Homo sapiens: one gene and its partners. The protein of the gene in region 4 interacts with the protein of the main gene of each other region in a pairwise test. Each region holds a gene or a part of one and is shown on either strand. Other genes may lie near its edges.

Region 1 (7,024 bases), on a different chromosome or scaffold from region 4:
GTTAAAAAAAAATCTCTTTCAGCAGAATCCCAATAAAAGTAAAATGTAACTTACATCAGCATTCTTCTGACACATACTGCACTTAGTTGAAATGCTTTTGGTATATATGGTAACAACAGGTTTTTTCTTTAGCTCATAAGATGACAAGCATGATTGGCTGCAGAAATCTTTGCTAGGATAGGAATTCTCAAAGCGAGTTGTGATCACATCCTTAGGATTTAAAATGTCTCTAAAAATAAATAACAAAGGTAAAAATGAAATGTATTCTTCACAACTGTAACTTCCTCCTCTTTGTGAGGTGAAATAACACTTACTAAGGGCAGGTACTGTATGGTAGAAAAAGGATAAGGAATCTGCAAACCTGGGTTTGATGAGTTCTGCTATTTATCAGGTGAGTGACAATGAATGATGTAATTACTATCTCAATTTCTTCATGTATAAAATGGGGCTTATAATATCTAATTCATAAATTTGTCAAGAGTGAATTATATTTAAAATATAGCCAGCCAGGGCCAGGTGCGGTGGTTCATGCATGTAATCCCATCACTTTGGGAGGCCGAGGTGGGCGGATCATGAGGTCAGGAGTTCGAGACCAGCCTGGCCAACATGGTGAAACCTCGTCTCTACTAAAAATACAAAAACTAGATGGGCGTGGTGGTGGGCGCCTGTAATCCCAGCTACTCGGGAGGCTGAGGCAGGAGAATCACTTGAACCCGGGAGGTGGAGGTTGCAGTGAGCCGAGATTGTGCCACTGCACCCCAGCCTTGGCAACAGAGCTAGACTCCATCTCAAAAAAAAAAAAAAAAAAAAATATATATATATATATATGTGGCCAGCCAGATGCTGAAGACAAAAATAGGAAGGCTTCCAGCCCCAACCAAGTTTCATCTGCTATAGCCAATGGGACCAGTGTCCATCCCACAACTCCAGACCACAAGACACTGGTTCTCTCATTAGCCAGAGGCTGCCCAAAGTAGAACTGAAATGAGACAATAAATGAATTTTTTCTTTCTTTTTTTTTTTTTTTTTTGTGAGACGGAGTCTCGCTCTGCTGCCCAGGCTGGAGTGCAGTGTCACGATCTCGGCTCACTGCAATCTCCACCTCCTGGGTTCAAGCGATCCTCCTGTCTCAGCCTCCGGTTCGAGTAGCTGGGACACCAGCACGTGCCACCATGCCAGGCTAATTTTTGTATTTTTAGTACAGACGGGGTTTCGCCATATTGGCCACGCTGGTCTCAAATTCCTGACCTCGCGATCCGCCTGCGTCAGCCTCCCAAAGTGTTGGGATTACAGGCATAAGCCACCGTGTCCAGCCAAGACAATAAATGAATGTTTAAAAATTAAAAGTGCAAGATTTTGAGAAACAAATGAGCTAACAGAAGACAAAAAATAAGCATGATATATGACAAAAGGGCTGTTAAGGCTTTGTATCAGAGGACAGATGGAAACAAGAACGAGACAGGAAGAACAAAAATAATTGGGTGGTTCTGTGAGACTCCTAGAGCCAATTTGTAAGAGCTAATTATTGCAATAAGCACAAATAGCAATACCCTGGTAAAACAGAGGTTAAGTATTGCCATTCTTCTGACAAGTATAAAAACTAAAGGAAATAGTCACTAATTATAAACACTAGTGCAGGCCACAAAGTAAATAATAATGGCAATAATATATACTACAATAAGTGTGTTGAGTAATTACTATGTGCCAAGCATTATTCTCTTTACTCAAATTACCCAATTTAAATACCACAAAAATGATGGAGTGCAGTGGCTCACCCCCATAATCCTAGCACTTTGGAAGGCCAAGGCAGAAGGATTGCTTGAGCCCAGGGAGTTCAAGACTCCAGTGAGCCATGATCATGCCACTGCACTCCAGCCTGGGCAACAGAGCAAGACCCGATCTCTATAAAAAAAATTTTTTAATTAGCAGGGCATGCTGGCTCATGCCCATGGTCTCAGTTACTCAGGATGCTGAGGTGGGAGGATTGCTTGAGCCCGGGAGGTAGAGGCTGCAGTGAGCTGGGATCACGCCACTGCACTCCAGCCTGGGTGACAGAGTGAGACCGTGTCTCAAAAAAAAAAAAAAATCCCCAAACCACTATAAGGTTAAGTATTACTGTAACTGCCACTTTACAGATGAGGAAACTGAATGAGAGGTTAAATAGCTTGTCAAAGTCATATTGCTAGTAGGCAATAAAGCTGAAATACTAATCCAGGCAATCTGATTCTAGTCTATGGAATTAATTATTCCACTATCCTGCCTCCCATCCTGCACCTTTATTATACAGGTATATTCAATGGTAAACCATGAGAAAATAACAACAACAAAAATTATTTTAATTCTTTAAAACTCAACTTTAAAAATATGACAGCAAATCTTAGAAACCAAAAGAATATGCTTATACACAGATGAAGTATTAATTTTGAAAAGTGATTTTTCTACTGAAAACAGAGCAATAAAGAGTTTCACTTAATAAGGTGAATCTGCCAGTGGCATAATAAGTACAAAAATAGCAAGTAAAAATATGTAAATCAAAGAGAATGACTTTATAATGAAAATCTGTGCACATAAATTATAAGTGTACTCTGAACCTTACACATGCAAATGAGTGTTATATCGTAACATTTACCGTAGAAAAACCACACCTTCCAACAATAACATAGCTCAAAACATTTTTCTAATTTTTTTAAGATAAAACTTAAGATAAACCCTTAGACTATTTTTTAACTTTTAATTTTATAAATATCATGTTTTAACAGTATGACTTAATTTAATTAGCTAATATATTGGCCTGATTAAGGTATCAAGCAGCCTTTGAAAATTTGTAAAAATCAAATGCATGCTGAAAAGATAAGAATCTGTCTCCTAACCTTATGCTAAAAAGTCACTGACGGGGGTGACTACTTTTAAGAAAACAATAGGCATTTGGATGTATAAGTTGTGTTATGTTCTTTAAAATTATTTAATTTTATTTTGGTATTTGGTATGTTGAAACAATATCTAAAAATAGAAAACTAAGTTTACTCTTTCAGATTAGTTTCATGAGAATGACATAAAAGCATTAATTAGAATGGTATTTTGCAACAAACTAATTTAGAGTATATAAATATTTTAAAATTCCTCTCTCCTGGCCACATGTGATGGCTCACACCAATAGTCCCAGCACTTTAGGAGGCTGAGGCAGGCTAATTGCTTGAGCCCAGGAGTTTGAGACCAGCCTGGGCAACATAGCAAAACCATCTCTACAAAAAAATACAAAAATTAGTCGGGCATGGTGGTATGCGCCTGTGGTCCCAGCTATTTGAAAGGCTGAGGTGGGAGGATCATCTGAGCCCGGGGAGTTCAAGGCTGCAGTGAGCTGTGATCACTCTACCATGGGCAACAAAGAAAAAAAAAAATCCTCTCTCCTCTTTACTTGGAAATTTCCATATAGCAGGATCTACTTTTAAATAGTTTAAGTCAAGACACAAAGCAGATAAACACAGCCAAAGACAAAATAGGGGCCTACAAGTGATATGTTAAGTATACATAGTAATATGTATTATATACACATATATTTATTATATTTATTTATGTTAATTATAAATAATCGCACGATATAATTTTTATTATTAATAATAACAGGATTCCATTTTTTAAGTACTTGCTATGTGCTAGGCCATTTGCTAACACTGTCTCATTAAAGTCCTAGGAAGCAACTATTATTTACTGATGAGAAATGGAGGCTTAGAAAGTTAAACATCTAGCCCGAAGTCACAGAGATAAATGACAGAGCCACAATTTAAAAGCAAGCTCTTACTGTTTTTTGCCTGTAGTGACTATTAACAACACACTGTATTCCTCAAATTACACTACCACAGAAATAGGCAAAATATGCCAAATCCTTCAAATGTACTAAGTCAGGGAAAGATTTATGTGACTTTGTTGCTGTTTTTTCCTCTCTCTGCATCTAAGCATTATTGTAAAGCAACAATGACCCCACAAGGACATTAGAAATAAACACATTTTTGCGACCATGTAGAGTTTTTACTTTTTAAAGAATTAAATAGCTTTTGTATACTATTAAAAGAGTGATATTATTTTATGCTATACCCAATAGCTTTCAAGATAACTGTTAAATAAATTTAAATGGTGGGTGTCTACAATTACAGGATAGTCCTGCAATTCCCACATGTCATTTGTTATTTCTTTCCATAGTAAAATTTAAAGTGATAGAAAACTGGTTTAGGCAATATTCTAACACCAAGTCACTTATTTAATGTTGCAAAACTTTAAAATTGGTGAATTCTTCCATTAACTAAAAAGTTATTTCTACAGATACATGCTGAAGAGATTTAAAGTATCAACAGTATGTTTGAACTAAACAATATACACACTAAAAAAAAGGTAAAGTAAAAAGGGATGTTAAGAATTTTATACTTCGAGCAGTTTGTGCAGGTTTTCTTGGGAGGAGGTGGCAGGCAGGCAGGTGAAGAATGTCTGGTGATGCATCGTGTGGAGCAGAAGAGCTGAGTAGATCCTGTCTTATGATATGCAGTTTGGCCCTTATAAAGCATTTTTTTACAACCAGAACAAAAAACCTTAATAGCAACAGCTGGAACTGAAGGAAGCAACACACTTGGGCCAGATGATGCAAAAGAAAGCTGAAAGCCTGGGTTCAACTGCTGGGCTATCAAAACAAAATAAAAAAAGTTTTAGTATCAATACTAATGCATATACAGTCTCAGTCTCTCTCTCTCTCTCTCTTTTTTCTTTTTCTGAGACACGGTCTCACTGTCACCCAGGCTGGAGTGCAGTGGTGCAATCAAGGCTCACTGAAGCCTCAAACTCCCAGGATTAACCAGTCCTCCCGCCTCAGCCTCTTGAGTAGCTAGGACTACAGGCACATGCCACCACACCCAGCTAATTTTTTTTTAATTTTTAGCAAAGATAAGGTATGTTGCCCAGACTGGTCTCAAACACCTGAGCTCAAGCGATCCTCCTGCCTCAGCCTCCCAAGTTGCTGAGATTACAGGTGTTAGCCACTAAACCCAGCCCAGTCTCTCTTTTTCAGGACAAATTCCCAATCTTGAAATCCAGTTAATGAGGCAATAAGAGCTCTAAAACAGAGGTTTCAATTTTTTTTTAACCATTACTCAACGCAAGAAATACATTTAATATTATAACCCAGTTCTCACATACATATGTTTGTAAACGTGGGGATGTATGTACAATTTAATCACTGAAACAGAAGTTTTATGAAACAATATGTTTCCTTACTACACATATCATATTCTGATATAATCTTACTCTATTTTTTAAAACGCTGCTGAAAACCAGCTACTCACAGTTTGAAAAAACACAGCTCTAAAGAAAGAGAAAGACATACATGAAAAGATGCTTTCCCTCAATTTTAAAAGTCAGAATAAGCAAATTAATTGTAACTAACTTATACAGTTCCATTTCTTACCAATAGGTCTCTCATTAACTGAAGACACACCACCAATTTTCAATTTACTTTCTTGAGTTTTTGGCTGTTGGACACATCCATACTCCTTTAAAAAAAAAAAGAAAAGAGAAAAGAGCAATGAATACAATGTATGTAAGTAAACTAGAAATTCAAGCAAAAAAAAATTATTCTATCCTATTCATCTCCTTTTTTTTTTTTTTTTTTTTTTGAGATGGAGTCTCACTTGGGTGCCCAGGCTGAAGTGCAGTGGCGCGATCTCAGCTCGTTGCAACCTCTGCCTCCCAGGTTCAAGCGATTCTTCTGCCTCAGCCACCCGAGTAGCTGGGACTACAGGTATGTGCTACCACACCCAACTATTTTTTGTATTTTTAGTAGAGACAGGGTTTCACCACATTGGCCAGGCTGGTCTCGAACTCCTGACCTTGTGATCTACCCACCTCAGCCTCCCAAAGTGCTGGGATTACAGGCGTGAGCCACCACACCCGGCCCTATTCATCTCTTAAACAGTCTAATCATAAATACCTTCACAAGCACCTCAAAAGTCAAAATTTACAAGTTATTACACTAATCTTTACAAAGACAATCTTTCAGAATTAGAGAATCTTTTAAAATACTTTTATCTACTTTTCAAATGAAATTTTGATATATGGGAGTAATACATAGCTATTCCAAATGCTGAGCACTACCTATTTTTTAGGTAGTGTGTTTAAAAGGGGGTAATAAATGAAAAAAAAAATTTTTTTTTTTTTTTGACATGGAGTCTCATTCTGTCACCCAGGCTGGAGTTTCATTCTGTCACCCAGGCTGGAGTGCAATGGCGTGATCTTGGCTTACTGCAACCTCCAACACCCAGGTTCAAGCGATTCTCCTGCCTCAGCCTCCCAAGTAGCTGGGAATACAGGCTTGCGCTACCACACCCGGCGAATTTTTGTGTTTTTTTCCAGTAGAGAAGGGGTTTTGCTATGTTAGCCAGGCTGGTCTGGAACTCCTGACCTCAGGTGATCCGCCCACTTTGGCCTCCCAAAGTGCTGGGATTACAGGTGTGAGCCACTGCACCCGGCAAAAAGGAGCAATAAATGAAATTAAATCTGGCTGGGCGTGGTGGCTCACACCTATAGTCCCAGCTACCCAGGAGGCTGAGGCAGGAGAATCACTTGAACCCGGGAGGAGGAGGCTGCAGTAAGCCAAGATTGTGCCACTGCACTCCAGCCTGGGCAACAGAGCGAGCCTCTGCCTCAAAAAAAAAAAGAAAAAGAAAAAAAGAAAAGTTAAATCTGAATGATTTAGAGTTTGGATTTCAATCATTTTAGATTTACAAGCTGCCTTTTCTGTTAATGGCAGAAAAGATACAAGAGTGTCAATGCAATCTGCTCATTATACATAAAATCATCACAGACAAAATCCTATTTATTCTTACCACATTCTTTAAAACGTTTTAAAACAAAATGTAATCATGAAACATTTTTAAAATGTAAATGCCTATCTTTATTCTGAAATTGCAACCATCCTTTTTTTTAATGTTAAAATACCCTTACATATTTCAAAACAGGAAGTTTTTTAAAAAGTCTTACTTTT
Region 2 (7,024 bases), on a different chromosome or scaffold from region 4:
TGGTGGTGCAGGCCTGCAATCCCAGCGACCTGGGAGGCTGAGGCAGGAGAATTGCTTGAACCTGGGAGGCGGAGGCTGCAGTGAGCTGAGATCGCGCCATTCCACTCCAGCCTGGATGATAGAGCAGGACTCTGTCTCAAAAAAATGAAAAAAAAGAATAAAAAATAAAAACAAATATATATATATATATATATATGGCATCTGTATTTGGACTCCACACAAGATTGGCCTCTGGGTTTTTCCTGATGCCATGGTTTCTCCAATGGCCTCCATCTATGATGTTCCTTTACTCCTTTTGCTCTGTACCCCATGCCCGTACCTCTTTTACCCCATTGGCCTCTCCACTCTAGTATTCCCATTATCTCCACAGTGCACCCCAGTTCCCATGCATTCTCTCCAAGTCCCAGGAAATCAAAATCCCTCACAAACTAGACAGCATTTGTTCCCCTAAATGACCTCTGCCAGGACACACATACACACTTAGTTGTGGATGAGGTCTGCATTCTGAGCCCAGAAAACCCTACTTTCCTCTTTCCCTTGATTCTTCTTCTTTGCCTCCCTGAAAGGTGGACAGGAGAGCTCAGGCTTGAACCTGGGCAAAAAGATCAGTGTCCCAAGGGATGTGATGTTGGAGGAACTGTCGCTGCTTACCAACCGGGGCTCCAAGATGTTCAAACTGCGGCAGATGAGGGTGGAGAAGTTTATTTATGAGAACCACCCTGATGTTTTCTCTGACAGCTCAATGGTGAGTCTGGAACTTTATCACTATCTCAAAGCCTGGTGCCTGTTCTGACAGCTTGTTAGTAGGCCCTGAACCTCCAAAATGCAGTCAACATCCCCTCCCTGAAAATTTATAAATTTGTTAAACCCCCAGATATATTGAGCCCGCAACAGCTCCAGGGTGAGTTACAGCCCACCTCTGAAACCCAGTTTTCATCATAGAGCCACTGAAGGGTTGGAGAATACCACACCCTTAGGGAGAAAATTCCTTCCCAGTAAAGGTAAGTGTTAAAGATAGATTGCCAGATAAAACACAGGATGCCCAGTGGGGCAGTCCAGTCTTGTATTTTGAAGTTGAGATACACAATGAATAATTTTTTAGTGAAGTATGCTCCATGCAATATTTGGGACATAAAGATAAAAATTTAAAAAAATTTTAGAAAGAAGATAAGGCAGCCAGGCATGGTGGCTCACACCTGTAATCCCAGCACTTTGGGAGGCCGAGGCAGGTGGGTCACCTGAGGTCAGGAGTTTGAGACCAGCCTGGCCAACATGGTGAAACCCCCATCTCTACTAAAAATACAAAAAATTAGCTGGGCGTGGTCGTGGGTTCCTGTGATCCCAGGTACTCAGGAGGCTGAGGCAGGAGAATCACTTGAACCCAGGAGGTGGAGTTGCAGTGAGCCCAGATTGTGCCACTGCACTCCAGCCTGGGCAACAAGAGTGAAACTCTGTCTCAAAAAAAAAAAAAAAAGAAAGAAAAAAGAAAAAAGGAAGAAGATAAGGCAAAGAATAAAATTGAAATTTTAAAATACAGAATATACAATTAAATTTGAGTTTCAGATGCACAATGAATTCTTTTTTAAATATGTCCCATGCAATATTTGGGACATTAAAATAAAAATACAGGATGTCCACTTAAATTTGAATTTCAGATGCAAATGAATAATTTTTTTAGTATAAGTAAGTCCCAAGCAATATTTGGAGGCATATCTATACTAAAAAAGTATTTGGGTCAAGTGTGGTAGCTCACACCTGTAATCCCAGCACTTTGGGATGCCAAGGCAAGAGGACTGCTTGAGTCCAGGAGTTGGAGACCAGCCTGGGCAACATGGCAAGACTCTGTTTCTACAAAAAATTAAAAAGTTAGCTGGGTCTGGTGGCGCACACCTGTAATCCCAGCTACTCTGGAGGGTGAGGTGGGAGGATGGCTTGAGCCTGGAAGGTAGAGGATGCATGAACATGAGCCATGTTCACACCACTGCACTCCAGCCTGGGTGACAGAGAACCCATCTAAAAAAAAAAAATAAAAATTTGTTGTGCATCTGAAATTCAAATTTAAGTGGTATCCTATATTTGATTTGCTAAATCTGGCAACCCTAGAAAGAGTTAATTGAGTTTTTACAGCCACCTCCCATTTGAGCCATTCTTCCATTTAAAGGGTCAGTCTATTCCCTAAGAAGCCCCAGGTGTGGAGACTGAAACGGTCCTTCAAGATATATTCTAGTCAGGCTCCTTCTCCAAAGAAAGAGGAGACTGGAGAGGGGCCAGGCACAGGATGGTATAGCTGAGGAAGAAGGGCCTTCTCCATTTCCTTTCTTCCTCCTCCACCCTCTCTGAGTGGCTGGGGGAGAGTGGAAATAGATGCCTGCATGGGGCCGGGGGCAGAAGTGTCTGTCATTGGTCCTCATATAGGAGCAGAGTAAAAGTGCTGAGCTGCTCATATCTAACTTTAGGAGGCCAAAAGCACTCTTCTCTGCCTGGGTCTGGTTACACTGGGTGGAGCATTGGGGTGTACATGGTGGGATGGCCAGGAGAGCCTCCTGAAGAAGTTGGTGGGGTTATTTTTAGGCTTTGGGTTTGCATCTAATGTTGCCCTTTTGGCCACACTTCCCCCCACCTGCTACAGTGTCACTGTCACCAGTGAGGTCCAACAGGCACCAAGAGGAGAGAGGAAGAGAAAGAAGGAGAGAGAAGAGAGTTCTGACTGTTGGACAAGCTGAGGAAGGGAGGGGGCAGAATTTCTCTAGTCCTTGTAATTAAGACTGGGTGCTCCATGGCAACCCCATCCTCCCAAATTTTAGTTGGGGCTGGACACAGCTCATGCCTGTTATCTCAGCACTTTGGGAGGCTGAGGCAGATGGATCACTTGAGCCCAGGAGTTTGAGACCAGCCTGGGCACATGGCAAACCCTGTCTCTAGGAAAAAAAAAAATACAAAATTTAGCTGGGTGTGGTAGCATGCCAGTAGTCCCAGCTACTTGAGAGGCTGAGGTGGGAGGATTGCCTGAGCCAGGGAGGTGGAGGTTGCAGTGAGCCGAGATTGTGTCACTGCACTCCAACCTGGGTGACAGAGCCAGATTCTGTCTCAAAAAGCAAAAGAATTTTTTTTCATTTTTTTTTTTTAAAGCTGGGCAGGCGTGTTGGTCTTTTTTGACTTGTTAAGGATGAGAAAGGGGAGTGTGGAGAACACGCTGCCCTTACCCTAGGTATAACTGGAGGAAACGAGCCAAGGGAGTCCTACCTCTTAAGAAGAGTTTAATTCGGGCTGGGTGCGGTGGCTAACGCCTGTAATCCCGGCACTTTGGGAGGCCGAGGTGGGTGGATCATCTGAGGTCGGAGTTTGAGACCAGCCGGACCAACGTGCAGAAACCCCACCTCTACTAAAAATATATCAAATTAGCCGGGTGTGATGGTGCATGCCTGTAATCCCAGCTACTCGGGAGGCTGAGGCTGGGAATTGCTTGAACCTGGAAGGCTGAGGTTGCGGTGAGCCGAGATCGTGCCATCACACTCCAGCCTGGGCAACAAGGGCGAAACTCTGTCTAAAAAAAACCACAAAAAATCAAACAAACAAAAAGAAGAGTTTAATTCTCTTAGTCAGCCCATGTACTACCCATCAACTGGAGGGGGAAATATCAGAAAATTCAGGGTCTTCTGGTTAGCCACTATTTCTGCCTTTGCTAAACATACCTCTGTTTTTGTATATTTTCCATACCCATTGCTAACCTTCCCCTCACTTTGTCTTCTTTTCAGGATCACTTCCAGAAGTTCCTTCCAACAGTGGGGGGACAGCTGGGCACAGCTGGTCAGGGATTCTCATACAGCAAGAGCAACGGCAGAGGCGGCAGCCAGGCAGGGGGCAGTGGCTCTGCCGGACAGTATGGCTCTGATCAGCAGCACCATCTGGGCTCTGGGTCTGGAGCTGGGGGTACAGGTGGTCCCGCGGGCCAGGCTGGCAGAGGAGGAGCTGCTGGCACAGCAGGGGTTGGTGAGACAGGATCAGGCAAGTACACTCACCCAAGAGTAATGTGTTTGGTCCCTAGAGCAGAGTTGTCCCAGGAATGATGTCTACGCTGAGTGTGGGGAGCAGAGGAGGTCAGTTTAAATATCTTAATATTAAATATAATAATATCAGTTTAAATATCATAAATATCTTGGTGAATTACCTGGGTCCAGGAGTATATAGAGATGTGTCTATTCTACCCAGAAGCCTTGTTTTTCAGTTACTTTCCTGGCTTTTCGGATTCAGTCACAGATCTGCCCACAGACTATCATTATGCCACAAACCTTATACAATTACCAGGATATTATATCTTTAGTCCCTGGCTCTTGCAATTTCCCTAGTGTAGGGGCGTGGGATTACCTTTCATTGGCTACTAAATGCTATTATTTGACTGAATTTTCTCTCCCATGGCTACCAGGAGACCAGGCAGGCGGAGAAGGAAAACATATCACTGTGTTCAAGACCTATATTTCCCCATGGGAGCGAGCCATGGGGGTTGACCCCCAGCAAAAAATGGAACTTGGCATTGACCTGCTGGCCTATGGGGCCAAAGCTGAACTTCCCAAATATAAGTCCTTCAACAGGTAGGGGTGGTGAGGAAGGAACCAGATGCATTCTAGTGTGAGGCACTGTGTCTTTAGTTAGGATGGAGACTAATTCAAATGTTTCAGAAGGAGGCTAAGGAGAGATGGCAGGGATATGGGGGTCCTAATCAAAGGCCCTGCTCTTTTCACTCTATCTCAGCTTCATCATAGCAGTGTGATGAAGGAAAAAATTTGCTGGGAGGCAGGATTTGAATTCTAGCTCAATGGTCATTTATTAGCTGTGTAGGCATGGGAAAATCACTCTACCTCTGAGCCTGGGTTGCTTTGAACGTTACACTTATTTATTTTTTGTCTTTTTTTTGCTTCCTTTTTGTGGAGAATGGGGTCTCGCTATATCGCCCAGGCAGGTCTCGAACTCCTGGGCTCAAGCTATCCTCCCGCCTCTGCCTACCTGAGACCTGGGATTACAGGGGTGAGCCACCGTGCCCGGCCTGCTTTGAATGTTAAATGCGAATAACATTTTACATGTCTGAAGGCCTCTTGAGGCTCTCTTCCATTCAAGGTTAGGATGCCATTATTCTCCCTGTAATATGATTCTATTTCCTTATACTTTTTTCTTTTCTTTCTTTCCTTCTTTTTCTTTGACTCAGTTTTGCTCTTGTTGCCCAGGCTGGAGTGCAGTGGCATGATCTCAGCTCACTGCAACCTCCGCCTCCTGGGTTCAAGTGATTTTCCTGCCTCAGCCTCCCTAGTAGCTGGCATTATAGGCACCCGCCACCACGCCCAGCTAATTTTTGTATTTTTAGTAGAGATGGGGTTTCACCATGTTGACCAGGCTGGTCTCAAACTCCTGACCTCAGGTGATCTGCCCGCCTCGGGCTCCCAAAGTGCTGGGATTACAGGCGTGAGCCACCATGCCTGGCCACCCTGCTTTAGATGGCTCTAAGTCTCTGTTCTTTTGGAATTAGGCTTCTCTAGCCCATGGAGAGGAGGTCTGTGTGAAAGGATAGGGAAGAGCTAGAAAGGTACTCTTGTATTTGGTCCTAAGGAGCCTGGATTTTCCAGGCAACAATAATTACTCTTAGCCAGGCTATCCACTGTCCACTAGGGTTGGAGAGAGGGGGTCTCTATATTGCAATTTTTTTTTTTTTTTTTGAGACAGAGTCTTGCTCTGTTGCCCAGGCTGAAGTGCAGTGGTGCAGTCTCGGCTCACTGCAACCTCCACCTCCTGGGTTCAAGCAATTCCTATACCTCAGCCACCTGAGTAGCTGGGATGACAGGGGTGCGCCACCATGCCCAGCTAATTTTTTTTTGGGGGGGGGGTGTTTGTATTTTTAGTAGAGATGGCGTTTCACCACGTTGACCAGGCTAGTCTCAAACTCCTGGTCTCAAGTGATCCACCCACCTTGGCCTCCCAAAATGCTGGGATTACAGGCGTGAGCCACCGCACCGCACCTGGCCTTTCTACATTGTCATGTAAGGTGACCTCAGGCCCTTGGGTCTATAGTATTTGGGGTCACTTTCTCTGAAATGCTGGTCTGGGTCACAGCTATCCAAGAGTCTCTAGTACACACTAGACTCCTTTTCTCATTATTAGCTTTGGGGAAACAAGCTAACCAGGAAGGCAAAATGGGATGCTAAGGAAGAAGAAGGAGTACAGATGCAATCCCAAACTAGAATTCACAGACTTCCCTATTCTCAAAGAGGGTAGCATCTCATGATAAGGCTCTGTTTCTTTTATTCTGATTCTTAATTAAATAATGTGTCCCCTTCTCAGGACGGCAATGCCCTATGGTGGATATGAGAAGGCCTCCAAACGCATGACCTTCCAGATGCCCAAGTTTGACCTGGGGCCCTTGCTGAGTGAACCCCTGGTCCTCTACAACCAAAACCTCTCCAACAGGCCTTCTTTCAATCGAACCCCTATTCCCTGGCTGAGCTCTGGGGAGCCTGTAGACTACAACGTGGATATTGGCATCCCCTTGGATGGAGAAACAGAGGAGCTGTGAGGTGTTTCCTCCTCTGATTTGCATCATTTCCCCTCTCTGGCTCCAATTTGGAGAGGGAATGCTGAGCAGATAGCCCCCATTGTTAATCCAGTATCCTTATGGGAATGGAGGGAAAAAGGAGAGATCTACCTTTCCATCCTTTACTCCAAGTCCCCACTCCACGCATCCTTCCTCACCAACTCAGAGCTCCCCTTCTACTTGCTCCATATGGAACCTGCTCGTTTATGGAATTTGCTCTGCCACCAGTAACAGTCAATAAACTTCAAGGAAAATGAACTCATTCTTCCTTTGATATTTGAGAGCAGATGAAAGCCGAGGCTAACAATGCACAGAGACTAATTAAAGCCAAATACTAAACATTAATTATGCAAACTTTAAGACAGATCTGAGCTCCAGTTGCTTACACACCTACACCCATACGCACAAAACCACATTCATAGTTACTTACAAAGACGTTTATTCAAT
Region 3 (7,341 bases), on a different chromosome or scaffold from region 4:
TGGGGCTGGGCGTGGTGGCTCATGCCTGTAATCCCAACACTTTGGGAGCCAGAGGTGGGTGGATCACCTGAGGTCAGGAGTTCGAGACTAACCTGGCCAACATGGTGAAACCCTGTCTCTATCAAAAATACAAAAATTAGCCGGACATGGTAGCAGGCACCTGTAATCCCAGCTACTCAGGAGGCTGAGGCATGAGAATCACTTGAACCCGGGAAGTGGAGGTTGCAGCTGAGCTGAGATTGTCCTATTGCACTTCAGCAGGCAACAAGAGTAAAACTCTGTCTCAAAAAACAAAAACAAAAAAGAAATGGTGACCTGGGCAAAGTTTACCCAAAGGACATTAGTCTGAGAATACCTTCCGAATTGTACAGTCTCTGGAGCTGGTTGTAGGACACACTTACTGGCTCTTGGTTGCTGGAGTGATTTCTCTGGTTAATTCTGATAACAAATAAGACTCTCGGATGCTAACTAGTTGCACAACCCCTCAACAGTTGGCATCCCTACCTTCCTAGAGGGATAAGTTGTGTTCGGTCACCAGAGATTCAGCAATAATAGGTTTGTGATGCCCTTAGACATCCGAGGCTACACATCCATCCTTTTCTTTTCTTTTTTTTTTTTTTTTGAGACAGAGACTTTTTTTTTTTTTTCTCTGTCGCCCAGGCTGGAGTGCCATGGCACGAACTCGGCTCACTGCAACCTCTGCCTCCCAAGTTCAAGCGATTCTCCTGCCTTGGCCTCCCAAGTAGCTGGGATTACAGGCACCTGCCACCACACCCAGCTAATTTTTTGCATTTTTAGTAGTCGGGGTTTCACCATTTTGGCCAGGCTGGTCTTGAACTCCTGATCTCAGGTGATCCACCCACCTCAGCCTCCCAAAGTTGCTGGGATTACAGGCCTGAGCCACCGCGCCCAGCCTACATCCATCCTTTTTATATCGACTTTGCCTCTTATAGACAAACAATATTCAAAATACTAGACAAGAAAACACCATAGGAATGAGTGTAGAAGGACAGAAAACAATTGCACCAAGGACAAAATAAATATTTGATCAGATAACCAAAAATCCAGTGTGGGGGCCTTATTCCAGGAGTAAAAAAACTGAAAAACCAAATAAACCCAATGCTTGGCAGGGCATGGTGGCTCACATCTATAATCCCAGCACTTTGGGAAGCCAAGGTGGGAGGATTGCTTTGAGCTCAGGAGTTTGAGACCAGCCTGGGTAACAGAGTGAAACCCTATCTCTACAAAAAAATATATATATAAAACTTAACCGGCATTCCTGGGTGTGGTGGCTCATGCCTGTAATCCCAGAACTTTGGGAGGCCAAGGTGAGCAGATCATGGGGTCAGGAGTTTGAGACCAGCCTGACCAACATGGAGAAACCCCATCTTTGCTAAAAATACAAAACTTAGCCAGGTGTGGTGGCGCATGCCTGTAACCCTAGCTACTCAGAAGGCTGAGGCAGGAGAATTGCTTGAACCCGGGAGGCAGAGCTTGCAGGGAGCAGAGATAGCGCCACTGCACTCCACTCTGGGAGACAGAGCGAGACTCTGTCCCCCGCCAAAAAAAAAAAAAAAAATTAACCGGCATTGGTTAATTTTAGTGCCAGCTACTCAGGAGGCTGAAACTGGAGAATCACTTGAGCTGGGAAGCAGAGGTTGCAGTGAGCTGAGTCGTACCACTGCACTCCAGCCTGGTCAACAGAGTGAGACCCTATCTCAAAAAGTAAAAAATGAAAAATAAAAAATATGGCCAGGCATGGTGGCTCACGCCTGTAATCCTAGCACTTTGGGAGGCCGAGGCGGGTGGATCACCTGAGGTCAGGAGTTTGAGACCAGCCTGACAAACATGGAGAAACTGTCTCTACTACAAATATAAAATTAGCCAGGTGTGGTGGTGCATGCCTGTAATCCCAGCTACTCAAGAGGCTGAGGCAGAAGAACTGCTTGAACCCAGGAGGCGGAGGTTGCGGTGAGCCGAGATCGTGTCATTGCACTTCAGCCTGGGCAACAAGAGTGAAACTCTGTCTCAAAAATTAATTAATTAATTAATTAAAATAAAAAGTAAACCCAATGCTTAAGGGTATCAACACAATATCAGAACTCAATTAGCTTCCAACCATCAGCAGGTTGGCACCTCAGCGACATAAGCAGTTTCAGGTGTGCATACAATGACGAGTCAAGGGTCCCAGTCCCAGGCAGTGAGGGCTTCAGCTGAATCTTTGTTGCTCCTCCATTTCTGATAGTACCCTCCAACCAAGGACCACCAGGAAGCACCTGTAGTTGAACAAGGGAGGCTGAACACCACAGACATCTCAGCAAGAACATGTGTGAAAGGACTTATTACAGGATTGGAACTTTCATTAGGGGACTTCCTAGGCGGGTCCAAAAAGGGGGGCATTTGCTCTGGGTTGGATGCTATCAGGAAGTAGGGATAATTCTTTTTGGTTATCTTAATAATTCTTATCTAGAAGATGGGAGGAATGAATCAAGCTAAAACTGTACTTGGTAAAGAAGCAGCAGTGGCCAGGTGCAGTGGCTCACACCTGTAGTCCCAGCACTTTGGGAGGCCAAGGTGGGCATATCACCGGAGGTCAAGAGTTCAAGACTCACCTGGGCAACTTGGTGAATCCCCGTCTCTACTAAAAATACAGAAATGATCTGGGCATGATGGTGGGTGCCTGTAATCCCAGATACTCTGGAAGCTGAGGCAGGAGAATCGCTTGAACCTGGAGGTGGAGGTTGTGGTAAGCCAAGATTGCATCACTGCACTCCAGCCTGGGTAACAGAGCAAGACTTCATTTCAAAAACAAAACAAAACAAACAAAAACAACAACCAAAAAAAAAGCAGCAGTAACTTACGCTGTGGGAGAGAGGATTGTGTTGGTAATTTTTGTGGTTTGGACAATGTTCTTGTTTCTGTATTGAGGCTTTATTATGGAATGGTCTTTTTCTAGATCAGTCAGAGAGTGACCTTGTCTGATGTTTTTTGTGAAATTATTTTGCTCAACAGGACACCACCATGGCCGTGCTGTTGGTGCCAGGTCAGCTCCTAGCAACATCAAGGCTTCTGGAGTGAGGGTGCAAACCAGCTCCCAGCTGGCAGCAGTTGCTTTTCTCTTTTACACCGCCACACTCGAAATCAGAAAATTGGCAACCCCTTTGGTAGAACATGAGCTCCCGGTCACTACAGGCCCATTTATACCCAGTAACAGGCCCAGGTCACACATTTACACTCCGACCTTCCTCCTGCGTGTGCATCCCTTACACCAACCACGCCCAGAGAAAAGTCACTCGTCTAGCATCTCCCAGGGACCTGCTGGCAGGGCTGAAGATAGAACTCTGACTCTGTGTTTTCCCTCCAGCAACCCCCCTTGCTAGACATTAAGACAGATTGTTAAATCCCTGATGTATCGGCTTCTAAACTGGATGCAGATCGGGTCAGATAAAAACACTTCTCAGTGCACCTTCTTGTCAACAGTGGGTTCCTATCTATTCTTCTTTCTTTTGGGATTGGGTGCTAGGTCCCACGACATTAGCTGGGATTCTAAGACCTTTGCTCAGCTGCTGCGGCCACCACTGACACGCCCTCTGCTCCTCAAATACGGAGAACAGTTCAGTGTTCCTGCCTGAGGATCTCTGCATTTGCCTTCCCTCTGCCTGGAACTCTTCCCTCACATCCGCTTCCCAGCTTCAGCTCGGCATCACCTCCTCAGAGAGGCCTTCCATCCTTGGTGCCCGGGCACCACTGCTACCCGTTTTGGCCTCTGTTTTTTTTTTTTTTTTCAAAGGACGTTATGTTGCCCAGGCTAGAGTGCAACGGTCCGATCACGGATTACTGCAGCTTCCAACTCCTGGCTTCAAGCGCTCCTTCTGCCTCGGCCTCCCGAGTAGCTAGGCTTACAGGCTGGGGTTACAGGTGTGAGCCACAGCGCCCGGCCGCTTTGGCCTCCTTTAAGAGCTTCCCTCCGCGCTTTGTTCGCAGTTCTGGTCACAGTCTGTTCAGTGCGCGGGGCTGGGAGGCGGGAAACTGCCCAATGCCCAGACCTCTCTGTCTGTTTCCCCTCAAGCTCGTGAAGCTCTCTGACAGCAGAGACCCAATCACGAGGTGGAGACTTCGCTTTCCACATCGGGCAGGGGGTCGGCCGCATCCTCGATCTGGTCCTGGTGACTCGAGACCAGAGAGGAGCGCACGTCGACCCGCCCGGGGAACCCGCAGGCCACACGCCAAACCTCTACGGGATCCCCCAGCGAGGCCACTGCGCATGCTCCATACTCGCAGCCCCGCCCCCATTCAGGGGCGGGGCCGCGCCTGCGCAGCTGCCCGGCGCCGGCTTCCGGGTGGTGCGAGCGAGATGGGGCGGAGGGCCGGTCTTGCAGAGTAGCTGCGGTGAGTGGGCGTGTGCGCCGAGCGGTCTGGCCCAAGGGCTGGGGGCCGGCCGAGGGTCTTCGGGAGCAGGCCGCAGGGCGCGGAGAGATCCTGGGATCGCCGTCCGCCGCTGCTACCCGGCATGTCGGCGGAGGCCTCGGGCCCGGCTGCCGCCGCGGCCCCGTCCCTGGAAGCCCCCAAGCCCTCGGGTCTCGAGCCTGGCCCCGCCGCCTACGGTCTCAAGCCGCTGACCCCGAACAGCAAATACGTGAAGCTGAACGTGGGCGGCTCGTTGCACTACACCACGCTGCGCACCCTCACGGGACAGGACACCATGCTCAAAGCCATGTTCAGCGGCCGCGTGGAGGTGCTGACCGATGCCGGAGGTACGAGCGGCGCCCCTACCGTGCCCCCACCCCAGACCCCCAACTCCCGTTCCCCGCAGTCTCTCACCACCGGGGCTCCTCATGCCCCTTCTCTCTGCCCGCTACTGTCCAGTCAACTCATTCTCAGCTCCCTCCAGCCCCCACATCCCATCTCCTCCCCTTTCTCATTCATAATTTCTCTTCTCCTCCCCCAATCCTTTACCCCCAGCAATAACCAACACTTACGGAACCCCTAACTGCCAGGCGCTGTGGTAAGTGATTGAACGTGTCAGTTCATAATCCTCATGACCACCTCTCCCACCCTTCACCCCTCAGCTCAAGACTTGGGAACTAGCCCTGCTGCCTGCAGTACTACTCCTGGCAGCCTTCCTCAGTTTCTTCCGACTGCCCAGCCTTTTGTTTCCCTCTCTGCTTCAGAACTGCTCACAGCCAGCCAGGAGAGCTGGGAGATCTTGTTTGCCTCTGTGTTCCCCTGACACAGGTCCCTGTACACTCTAGGAATCCACCTGTATACACACATTGCAGAAGGAGGCTGCTTTGGGTTTGCCAGGGACACCAGAGTGGAGGGTGGACAGGTCTCCTTGGCAGGTGAACCTTACCTTCTTGGAGTGTTGCATTCAAGTATGGACCCTTCGTGCCCAAGTGAGACTTTGAAGTTTTGGAGTTTGGGAGTGGGAGAGTCTTAAGGGAGGGGTTAACGAGGACTGTGAGAGCAGGAGAATAAAAATTTGAGAGGCGGAGATCTGCCTTCAAGTATCAAAGGTGAAGAATTCGGCCAGGTGCGGTGGCTCACGCCTTTAATCCCAGCACTTTGGGAGGCCGAGGCGGTGGATCACCTGAGGTCAGGAGTTCGAGACCAGCCTGACCAATATGGCGAAACCCCGTCTCTACTAAAAATACAAAAATTAGCCGGGCGTGGTGGTGTGCGCCTGTAGCCCAGCTACTCGGGAGGCTGAGACAGGAGAATCGCTTGAACCTGGGAGGCGGAGGTTGCAGTGAGCCGAGACAGCGCCACTGCACTCCAGCCTGGGCGACAGAGAGAGACTGTCTCAAAAAAAAAAAAAAAAAAGGGAAGAATTCATTTGTCCAATAAGTATTTGTAAAATATCAGTTAGTGCTGGAGATAGGTAAATGAACCTGACAAAATTATGGAAATTCCCTTTTTTTAGGGAAGTGGGAGATCAGAAGACCAATAAGCAAGTAAACAAAATGTATATGCATATGCAATTGCAGATAGTAGTAAGTTCTTTCTTTTTTCTTTTTTTGATAGTAAGCTCTATGAAGAATATAAAAGTTAAAATGGCAGTGAACTGGACGGGGGGAGGTAGACATTTTAATTAAATAGGATGGTGAGAATTAACTTCGGGGGTTAACAGTTTATTGATAAGGTAATTCTGCAAGAACTTTCTCATGGTGAGAGCCTTCTGACTGTAGACCAGATATGGATGAGTTAATTATCTGGTTGAATATGTATAAAAACTTAAGGGAGAACTCGCTGGAGATGTTTTAAAGAGATTTCTTGGCTGTGGCACAGGTTTGAGACAGATCAGTATTCAGACTTTTTTGTGGCTTTGGAATCCTTTTTCTTTTCTTTTCTTTTCTTTTCTTTTTTTTTGAGATGGAGTTTCACTCTTGTTGCCCAGGCTGGAGTGCAATGGCACGATCTCGGCTCACCGCAACCCCCACCTCCCGGATTCAAGCAATTCTCCTGCCTCAGCCTCCTGAGTAGCTGGGATTACAGGCATGCGCCACCATGCCCGGCTAATTTTGTGTTTTTAGTAAAGACGGGATTTCTCCATGTTGGTCAGGCTGGTCTCGAACTCTTGACCTCAGGTGATCCGCCCACCTCGGCCTCCCAAAGTGCTGGGATTACAGGCGTCAGTCACCGTGCCCGGCCTTCTTTTCTTTACTTTTCTTTTTTTATTTTTTTGTTTTGAGACGGAGTTTCCCTCTTATTACCCAGGCTGGAGTGCAATGGCGCGATCTCGGCTCACTGCAAACTCCACCTCCCGGCTTCAAGCGATTCTCCTGCCTCGCCCCCCCCCGAGTAGCTGGCACCAGCCACCAAGCCCAGCTAATTTTGTATTTTTAGTAGAGATGGGGTTTCTCCGTGTTGGTCCTGCTAGTCTCAAACTCCTGACCTCAGGTGATCTGCCTGCCTCAGCCTCCTAAGGTGCTGGGATTATAGGCATGAGCCACCGCGCCTGGCTGGAATCCTTTTTTCTTATAATTTAGGCCAGGTTTGGTGGCTCACACCTATAATCCAAGTACTTGGGAGGCCGAGATGGGAGGATCACTTGAGCCCAGGAGTTCAAGACCAGCCTGGGCAACATAGTGAGACTCCATCTCTACAAAAATTTTTTTTTAATTTAGTAGCTCCAGGTCCCGCAGCAAAGCCATCTTTCCCCCTGCCTCTCCCCACCCCACTAGGTTGGGTGCTGATTGACCGGAGCGGCCGTCACTTTGGTACAATCCTCAATTACCTGCGGGATGGGTCTGTGCCACTGCCGGAGAGTACGAGAGAACTGGGGGAGCTGCTGGGCGAAGCACGCTACTACCTGGTGCAGGGCCTGATTGAGGACTGCCA
Region 4 (7,024 bases):
TGGTGTCCAGCATGAGCAGGAAGTTAAGTCAGGTGTTTTTTTGTTTTTTTTTTTTGAGACTGAGTGTAGCTCTTGTTATCCAGGCTTCCAGGCTGGAGTGCAGTGGCGCGATTTTGGCTTCCTGCAACCTCCACCTGCTGGATTCAAGCAATTCTCCTGCCTCAGCCTCCCAAGTAGCTGGGATTACAGGCGCTCACTACCACGCCCGGCTAATCTTGTATTTTTAGTAGAGATAGGGTTTTGCCATGTTGATCAGGCTGGTCTCGAATTCCTGACTCAGGTGATTCACCCACCTCAGCCTCCCAGAATGCTGGGATTACAGGCGTGAGCCACTGCGCCTGGCGGAAGTCAGGTTTTTTCCCAGTTATATAATGAATACGGGGTTTCCCCCTCCATACCGTGGATAGTGAGGTGGGATGGTTCCCTCGGTGGGGCCGTCCTGGGCACTGCAGGCTGCTGAGCAGCATCCCTGGCCTCCACCTGCTCTGTGCCAGGAACACCCCTAACTCTGACAACCACAGATGTCCCCAGACACAGCTCGGTGTCGCCTGGGGCAGGGTCGTCCTCAGATGAGGACGGTTGAACTGTGGCAGGTGAGGGGCCAGTGTGGCTGCCCTGCGCTCTGCTCCTCCCTCAGTCTCTCCGAGGCTGTACTGCCTCCAGCTGAGACAGATTCCTGCTGGGCAGGCTAATGGTAGGTGCTGGGCCCTTAGGACAGGGGAGGCCATTTGCCCAGGTCACCCCTGAGTCCATGGCAGGGCTGGGCCGGGCGCCCCCATTTAATGCCTAGCTTCTCGTGCCCAGCCGCTTCAGACCCACCGCCCCCACCTGCTGTGGGGCCAGGTTCCTGGGGCCTCCCAGCCTGGCCCTCACACCTAGTAAGGGTTCAGATCCAGCCGAGCCAGGCTTGGCCATGGAGGCCTCTCTGCCTGGGTGACCCAAGGTGGCGACCTCGTCTTTCTCAGCCTCGTCTTCCTTGTCTATGTACCTGGGTCAGCACAGCCTCCACCTGCACTGGGTCCCTGCTGCAGAGTGCTCAGAGCCAGCCACACAGTATAAAAAAATCAGTTTGGGCTGGGCACGGTGGCTCACAACTGTAATCGCAGCCCTTTGGGAGGCCAAGGCAGGTGGATCACGAGGTCAGAAGATCGAGACCATCTTGGCTAACACAGTGAAACCCCGTCTCTACCAAACATACAAAAAAATTAGCCGGGTGTGGTGACGGGCGCCTGTAGTCCCAGCTACTCGGGAGGCTGAGGCAGGAGAATGGCGTGAACCCGGGAGGCGGAGCTTGCAGTGAGCCGAGATCCTGCCACTGCACTCCAGCCTGGGCAACAAAGGGAGACTCCGTCTCAAAAAAAAAAAAAAAAAAAAGTTTGGTTTTCTCCTCAGAAAGCTTCTGGACATTTCTTTTTCTTTTTCTTTTTTTTTTTTGAAATGAAGTCGCTCTGTCGCCAGGCTGGAGTGCAGTGGCGTGATGTCGGCTCACTGCAACTTCTGCCTCCCAGGTTCAAGCGATTCTCCTGACTCAGCCTCCCGAGTAGCTGGGACTACAGGTGCGCACCACCACGCCTGGCTAATTTTTGTATTTTTAGTAGAGACAGGGTTTCACCATGTTGGCCAAGATGATCTCAATCTCTTGACCTCGTGATCCACCCCACATCTGCCTCCCAAAGTGCTGGGATTACAGGCGTGAGCCACCCTGCCCATCCCACATTTCTTTTTCTTATGTCGAGATATGATTTGCATACCATAGAATATACAGTTTTTAAGGGTGTCATCGAGTGGGTTCTCGTGGATCAGTAGGTATCGCAGCTCCCACCACTGCCTAGTCTCAGGGCAGTCATGTCCATCCCCAGCAGCTGCCACCCTTCATCCACTGGCCCCCACGCATCCCCTCCTGTCTGTAAATGGGTCTGTCCTGGACATTTCATAGAAGTGGAATCACATACTATGTGGCTTTCGTTTATTATTATTATTTAAGACAGAATCTCACTCTGTCGCCCAGGCTGGAGTGCAGTGTCGCGATCTCAGTTCACTGCAATCTCCGCCTCCCAGGTTCAAGTGATTCTCTTGCCCCAGACTTCTGACTAGCTAGGATTACAGGCGTGCACCACCACACTCAGCTAATATTTGTATTTTTTTTGAGACAGAGTCACACTCCGAGGCCCAGGCTGGAGTGCAGTGGCACGATCTTGGCTCACTGCAAGCTCTGCCTCCTGGGTTCACGCCATTCTCCTGCCTCAGCCTCCCAAGTAGCTGGGACTACAGGCACCCGCCACCACGCCTGGCTGATTTTTTTTTTTGTATTTTTAGTAGAGACGGGGTTTCACCATGATAGCCAGGAGGGTCTCGATCTCCTGACCTTGTTATCCGCCCGCCTCGGCCTCCCAAAGTGCTGGGATTACAGGCGTGAGCCACTGCACCTGGCCTAATTTTTGTATTTTTAGTAGAGACGAGGTTTCACCATATTGCCCAGGCTTGTCTCGAACTCCTGACCTCAAGTGACCCACCCACCTCCGCCTCCCAAAGTGCCAGGGTTACTGGCGTGAGCCACCTGCCTTGTGTGTCCTTTCGTGTCTGGCGTCTCTCACTGGGTGGGACATCCTCACGGTGCACCTGTGCTGAGGCCTGGGTCTGAGCCTGGCTCCTTTCCATGGCTGGGTCGCGTCCCGTGCGTGTTGGTCCTTCGGTCTACGGAAGGACACTCAGGATGCTGCTAGTTTGTGGCTGTTGTGGTCAGTTCTGCTGTGAACATCCACGGATGCGTCTTTGGGTAGATAGACTTTTTCCTCTTCTTCTGGGGGCGTTTCTTGTTAAAGTTTATCCTCAGGTGTTACTGGTTTTTGTTTTTTTTTTTTTGGAGAGTGTTTCTCTTTGTTACCCAGGCTGGAGTGCAGTGGTGCAATCATAGCTTGCAGCCTGTGCCTCCATGGGTTCAGACGATCCCCCTGCCTCAGCCTCCAAGCAGCTGGGACCACAGGTGTGCACCACCACGCCTGGGTAATTTTTTGTGGAGACAGTTTCACCATGTTGCGCAGGCTCGTCTCAAATTCCTGGGCTCAAGAGCTCCGCCAGCCTTGACCTCCCAAACTGGGTGTTTTCTTGCCATTGTGAGCCAGCTGCTAGATTCCCGCATGCACGTTTTAGCTATGTTTCTTCGCAGGGAGAGGCACCTGGCTGCCCTCTCTGGTTCAGGGTTTTGCTGTGGATTCTGTTGCATTTTCCAGGGAGGCCAGCCCCTCTCCTGACCTCACAGCCACTCCTCTCACCCAGCCCGTACAAAAGAGTCCTGGGCCTCAGTTTCCCAGCTCTGGGGGAGGGAGCCTTGTGGTGTGGCGGTCTCCACCTTGTCGGGTGGGCTGGGGTCACGCCCTCCTCACTCAGCTCTCCTTTCCTTTCCTCTGGTTTGCTCCACACCCACAGGGAACTGCAGCCCGGAGTTAAAGCCGTGCAGGTCGTCCTGAGGTATGCCCAGGTGTGCCCGCGACCCCAGGGCTGGACCCCCAGCCACCCGCCCCTCCCCGCCCCCCAGTCCTGGCCCAGGCCCTTCTCAGTCTCCCCTGCTAACAGCAGAGCCCAGCTCTCCTCACCTGCTGTCTATCCCTGTCTGGGGATACATCACCATCCGACCCCCACTCAGGCCACACCCGGGGGCCCTGATACCCCCCGTGTCACATTCTCCGGTGCCCCCATCACTGCCGCCTGGCTACCACTCGTGTACCCCCGCAGCAGCCTAGTCCCTCCTGTGCGCCCCCTCCCCGCCCCATGGTCCCTGTTGTCGTTGCAGAATCTGTTACTCAGACACCAGCTGCCCTCAGGAGGACCAGTACCCGCCCAACATCGCTGTGAAGGTCAACCACAGCTACTGCTCCGTCCCGGTGAGCATGCCCCGCCCCCGCGTCGGCTGCACGGGTTTGGGGGGCGTGGAGGGAGGGTGGGGGCCGTCGGATTTCCCAGCCGCTCTTGGCTCGAGGCTGAGCGGCCCATCTGCTTGCAGGGCTACTACCCCTCCAATAAGCCCGGGGTGGAGCCCAAGAGGCCGTGCCGCCCCATCAACCTCACCCACCTCATGTACCTGTCCTCGGCCACCAACCGCATCACTGTCACCTGGGGGAACTACGGCAAGGTGAGTGCGTGCCCGGGTGCCCACCCTGCCCCCCAACCCCGGCCCCGTCCTGCCAGCCCTGACCCCTTCCTTCTGTCCCCAGAGCTACTCGGTGGCCCTGTACCTGGTGCGGCAGCTGACCTCATCGGAGCTGCTGCAGAGGCTGAAGACCATTGGGGTAAAGCACCCGGAGCTGTGCAAGGCACTGGGTGAGCAGCTCAGGCCACCTCGGCCGAGGGGTGCCAAGTCCACCCTGGAAACCCGCCCTGTGCTGGGTGAAGCGGGGGGCCCTGCACCCGGAGGAGATCGATCAGGGGCCGCCTGTCACTCTGGGGGTCCATGGCCCCCCGGCTGTGGCTGGGGAGGTCTCTGGAGGATACGGATGGCAGAGGGGGCACTTGGCAGTGGGAGCTGCTGTGCGGAGGCCTGTGGGGTCACACCTCGTGTTGCTGGCCCCAGGTGCTCCAGCCCACAGGGGTCTAAGCAGCAGAAGAGCTGGAGCCTCATTCCGGGACAGCACAGAGGCCGGGAGGGGTGAGAGGAGCACAGAGGGAGCTGTGGTCTAAGCAGCCCCTTCTCGTTGCCTCAGCGGGGCCGAGGGTGCTGCGGGACCTGGCGGGTCACGGACGGCCAGGGTCGTGGAGGCAGTTGCTGTGGGAGGAAGACGGGCGGCGGCGGTCTGACCTCACGTTGGTGAGGCCCCGTTTAATCTTTTTTCTTTTTCTTTTTCTTTTTTTTTTAGAGAGTCAGGGTCTCTGGGAGGTAGAGGTTGCAGTGAGCTGAGACTGCATCGCTGCACTCCAGCCTGGGCTGCAGAGCGAGACTCCACCTCAAAAAAAAAAGTGTCTCGGTGTATCGCCCAGGCTACAGTGCAGTGGTGGGATCGTGGCTCACTGTAGCCTCTAACTCGGGCTCAAGCCATCCTCCTGCCTCAGCCTCCTGAGTAGCTTGGGACCACATGTGTTCACCACCACACCCAACTAATTTTTTTTTTTTTTTTTTTTTTTTTTTTTGAGACAGAGTCTCACTCTGTTGCCCAGGCTGGAGTGCAATGGCACGATCTCGGCTCACTGAAACCTCTACCTCCTGGGTTCAAGCGATTCTTCTGCCTCAGCCTCCTGAGTAGCTGGGACTACAGGCATGTGCCACCATGCCCGGCTAATTTTTTGTATTTTCAGTAGAGACGGGGTTTCACCTTGTTAGCCAGGATGGTCTTAAGCTCCTGACCTCGTGATCCGCTTGCCTCGGCCTCCCAAAGTGCTGGGATTACAGGCGTGAGCCACCACGCCCGGCCCCAACTAATTTTTTAATGTTTCGTAGAGATGGAATCTTGCTGTGTTGCCCAGGCTGGTCGTAAACTCCTGAGCTCAAGCAGTGCACCTGCCTCAATCTCCCAAAGTGCTGGGATTACAGTCTTGGCCACTTTCGCACCTGGTCTCTTTTGTCCTTGTAACAATGAAAACAATTTTTTTTAAGTGACACGCAGAGCAATTTTAAAAGAAAGCCTGCCGGCAAGGCGCAGTGGCTCACACCTGTAATCCCAGCACTTTGGGAGGCCGAGGCGGGCAGATCATGGGGTCAGGAGAGCAACACCATCCTGGCTAATATGGTGAAACCCCATCTCTACTAAAAATACAAAAAATTAGCCAGGCGTGGTGGCAGGCACCTGTAGTCCCAGCTACTCGGGAGGCTGAGGCAGGAGAATGGCGTGAACCCAGGAGGCAGAGCTTGCAGTGAGCGGAGATCGTGCCACTGCACTCCAGCCTGGGTGAGAGTGTGAGACTCCATCTCAAAAAAAAAAAAAAGCCTGCCAAGCCTGGTAGGCAAATCAGTCCTCACCCCAAGCAGCCACGCAGCACAAAGCCAGCGTACAGCAGTTAGCCCTGCCTGGCGGCTGTGTGGCCTCAGAAAGTCGCTGGCCTTCTCTGGTGGCCACTGTCTTCAGGAGAATAGATCTGAGCCATCTTGAGGGCACCTGGACATCTCTCTGGACCCCACATGCTTGGGGCCCAGGCCTCAGTGGGCTCTGCAGGCCTGTCTTATGGAGAGGCTAGGCCTAACCTGGAGTCATTTGGAGCTGGGAGTGGGAGTCAGGCAGGTGGGTGAGGACTGGGACCACCTGCCAGGCTGACGAGAGGGCGGTTCTGGGCCAGCCGGGTTTGCTCGCACCCCCTTCCCGAATGGTGGCTGTTTTCAGGTGGAATCTGGGCACCACCCCAGCCCCTTGGCAGAATGTGGGCCAGAGGGTCTTCCAGCTGCCCCTCCTAGCTGCCCAGGCCCCTGTGCCCAGGCCAGAGAGTTCCCCATGAGCACTGCCCTCCTGGCACAGCCAGGCCCAGGCCTCTGGTCCCTGTTCCTGACCACCAAAGGGCACCTCCTTGCCTGGGTGTCCAGAAGCCTGGAGCAGTGCTGGCACTGCCAGGGGCCTGCGAGCCCCATCGTGTTGAAGCCTCCTGTGCACTCCAGCCCCCCAAGTCAGGAAAGATAGCCGGCAGCACCCCCTCTGCAGAGCAGGACGTGGAGGGTGAGGGGTCCCTCCACGGAGTCCGGCATCCTTGGCCAGCCTCCTCCAGGCTCGGGGATGGAGGGCCTGGCTATGTACCCGTGTGACCAGTGGGGACACTGAGGCACAGAGTGGCAAAGTTAGGGTTCTGTGTCCTGGGTTACCCCGCCCCACCTCCCTCTTCCCTCAAAGGGCCCTTTTTTCAACCGCCCCCGACCTTCCCTGCCTGTGGGGACATGGCCAACTTGAGGGAGGAGGCTGGGGCCGGGCAGGCCTCTTCTAGGCCCACGGGGTGGGGGCCGGGCTTAACTCCTCAGTGACCAGAGCCCGCAGTGCTGGGGGCTGTGGGGTCAGGCTTCCTCTCCGAAGGGGTCTCCTGCTGCTTCCCACAGCCGGCCCCAGGCTCAGCCTCT

Evidence for each region.
Region 1: the proteins of PIAS4 (region 4) and ZMYM6 interact in binary tests that used the Homo sapiens proteins (3 or more experiments, as listed by UniProt).
Region 2: the proteins of PIAS4 (region 4) and MYOZ1 interact in binary tests that used the Homo sapiens proteins (3 or more experiments, as listed by UniProt).
Region 3: the proteins of PIAS4 (region 4) and KCTD13 interact in binary tests that used the Homo sapiens proteins (3 or more experiments, as listed by UniProt).

Annotation. Positions count from the first base shown.
Region 1 is NC_000001.11:35,014,934-35,021,957, forward strand, and holds part of ZMYM6 (zinc finger MYM-type protein 6), read right to left. Parts: intron 5,535-7,024; coding exon 5,450-5,534; intron 4,670-5,449; coding exon 4,420-4,669; intron 230-4,419; coding exon 55-229; intron 1-54. UniProt on the Homo sapiens protein: Plays a role in the regulation of cell morphology and cytoskeletal organization.
Region 2 is NC_000010.11:73,631,465-73,638,488, reverse strand, and holds the end of MYOZ1 (myozenin-1), read left to right. Parts: intron 1-566; coding exon 567-745; intron 746-3,755; coding exon 3,756-4,005; intron 4,006-4,423; coding exon 4,424-4,589; intron 4,590-6,327; coding exon 6,328-6,559; 3' UTR 6,560-6,877; downstream 6,878-7,024. UniProt on the Homo sapiens protein: Myozenins may serve as intracellular binding proteins involved in linking Z-disk proteins such as alpha-actinin, gamma-filamin, TCAP/telethonin, LDB3/ZASP and localizing calcineurin signaling to the sarcomere.
Region 3 is NC_000016.10:29,923,203-29,930,543, reverse strand, and holds the start of KCTD13 (BTB/POZ domain-containing adapter for CUL3-mediated RhoA degradation protein 1), read left to right. Parts: upstream 1-4,317; 5' UTR 4,318-4,510; coding exon 4,511-4,754; intron 4,755-7,184; coding exon 7,185-7,341. UniProt on the Homo sapiens protein: Substrate-specific adapter of a BCR (BTB-CUL3-RBX1) E3 ubiquitin-protein ligase complex required for synaptic transmission.
Region 4 is NC_000019.10:4,024,720-4,031,743, forward strand, and holds part of PIAS4 (E3 SUMO-protein ligase PIAS4), read left to right. Parts: intron 1-3,426; coding exon 3,427-3,468; exon of another isoform or gene 3,469-3,470; coding exon of another isoform or gene 3,471-3,478; intron 3,479-3,790; coding exon 3,791-3,881; intron 3,882-4,000; coding exon 4,001-4,129; intron 4,130-4,211; coding exon 4,212-4,317; intron 4,318-7,024.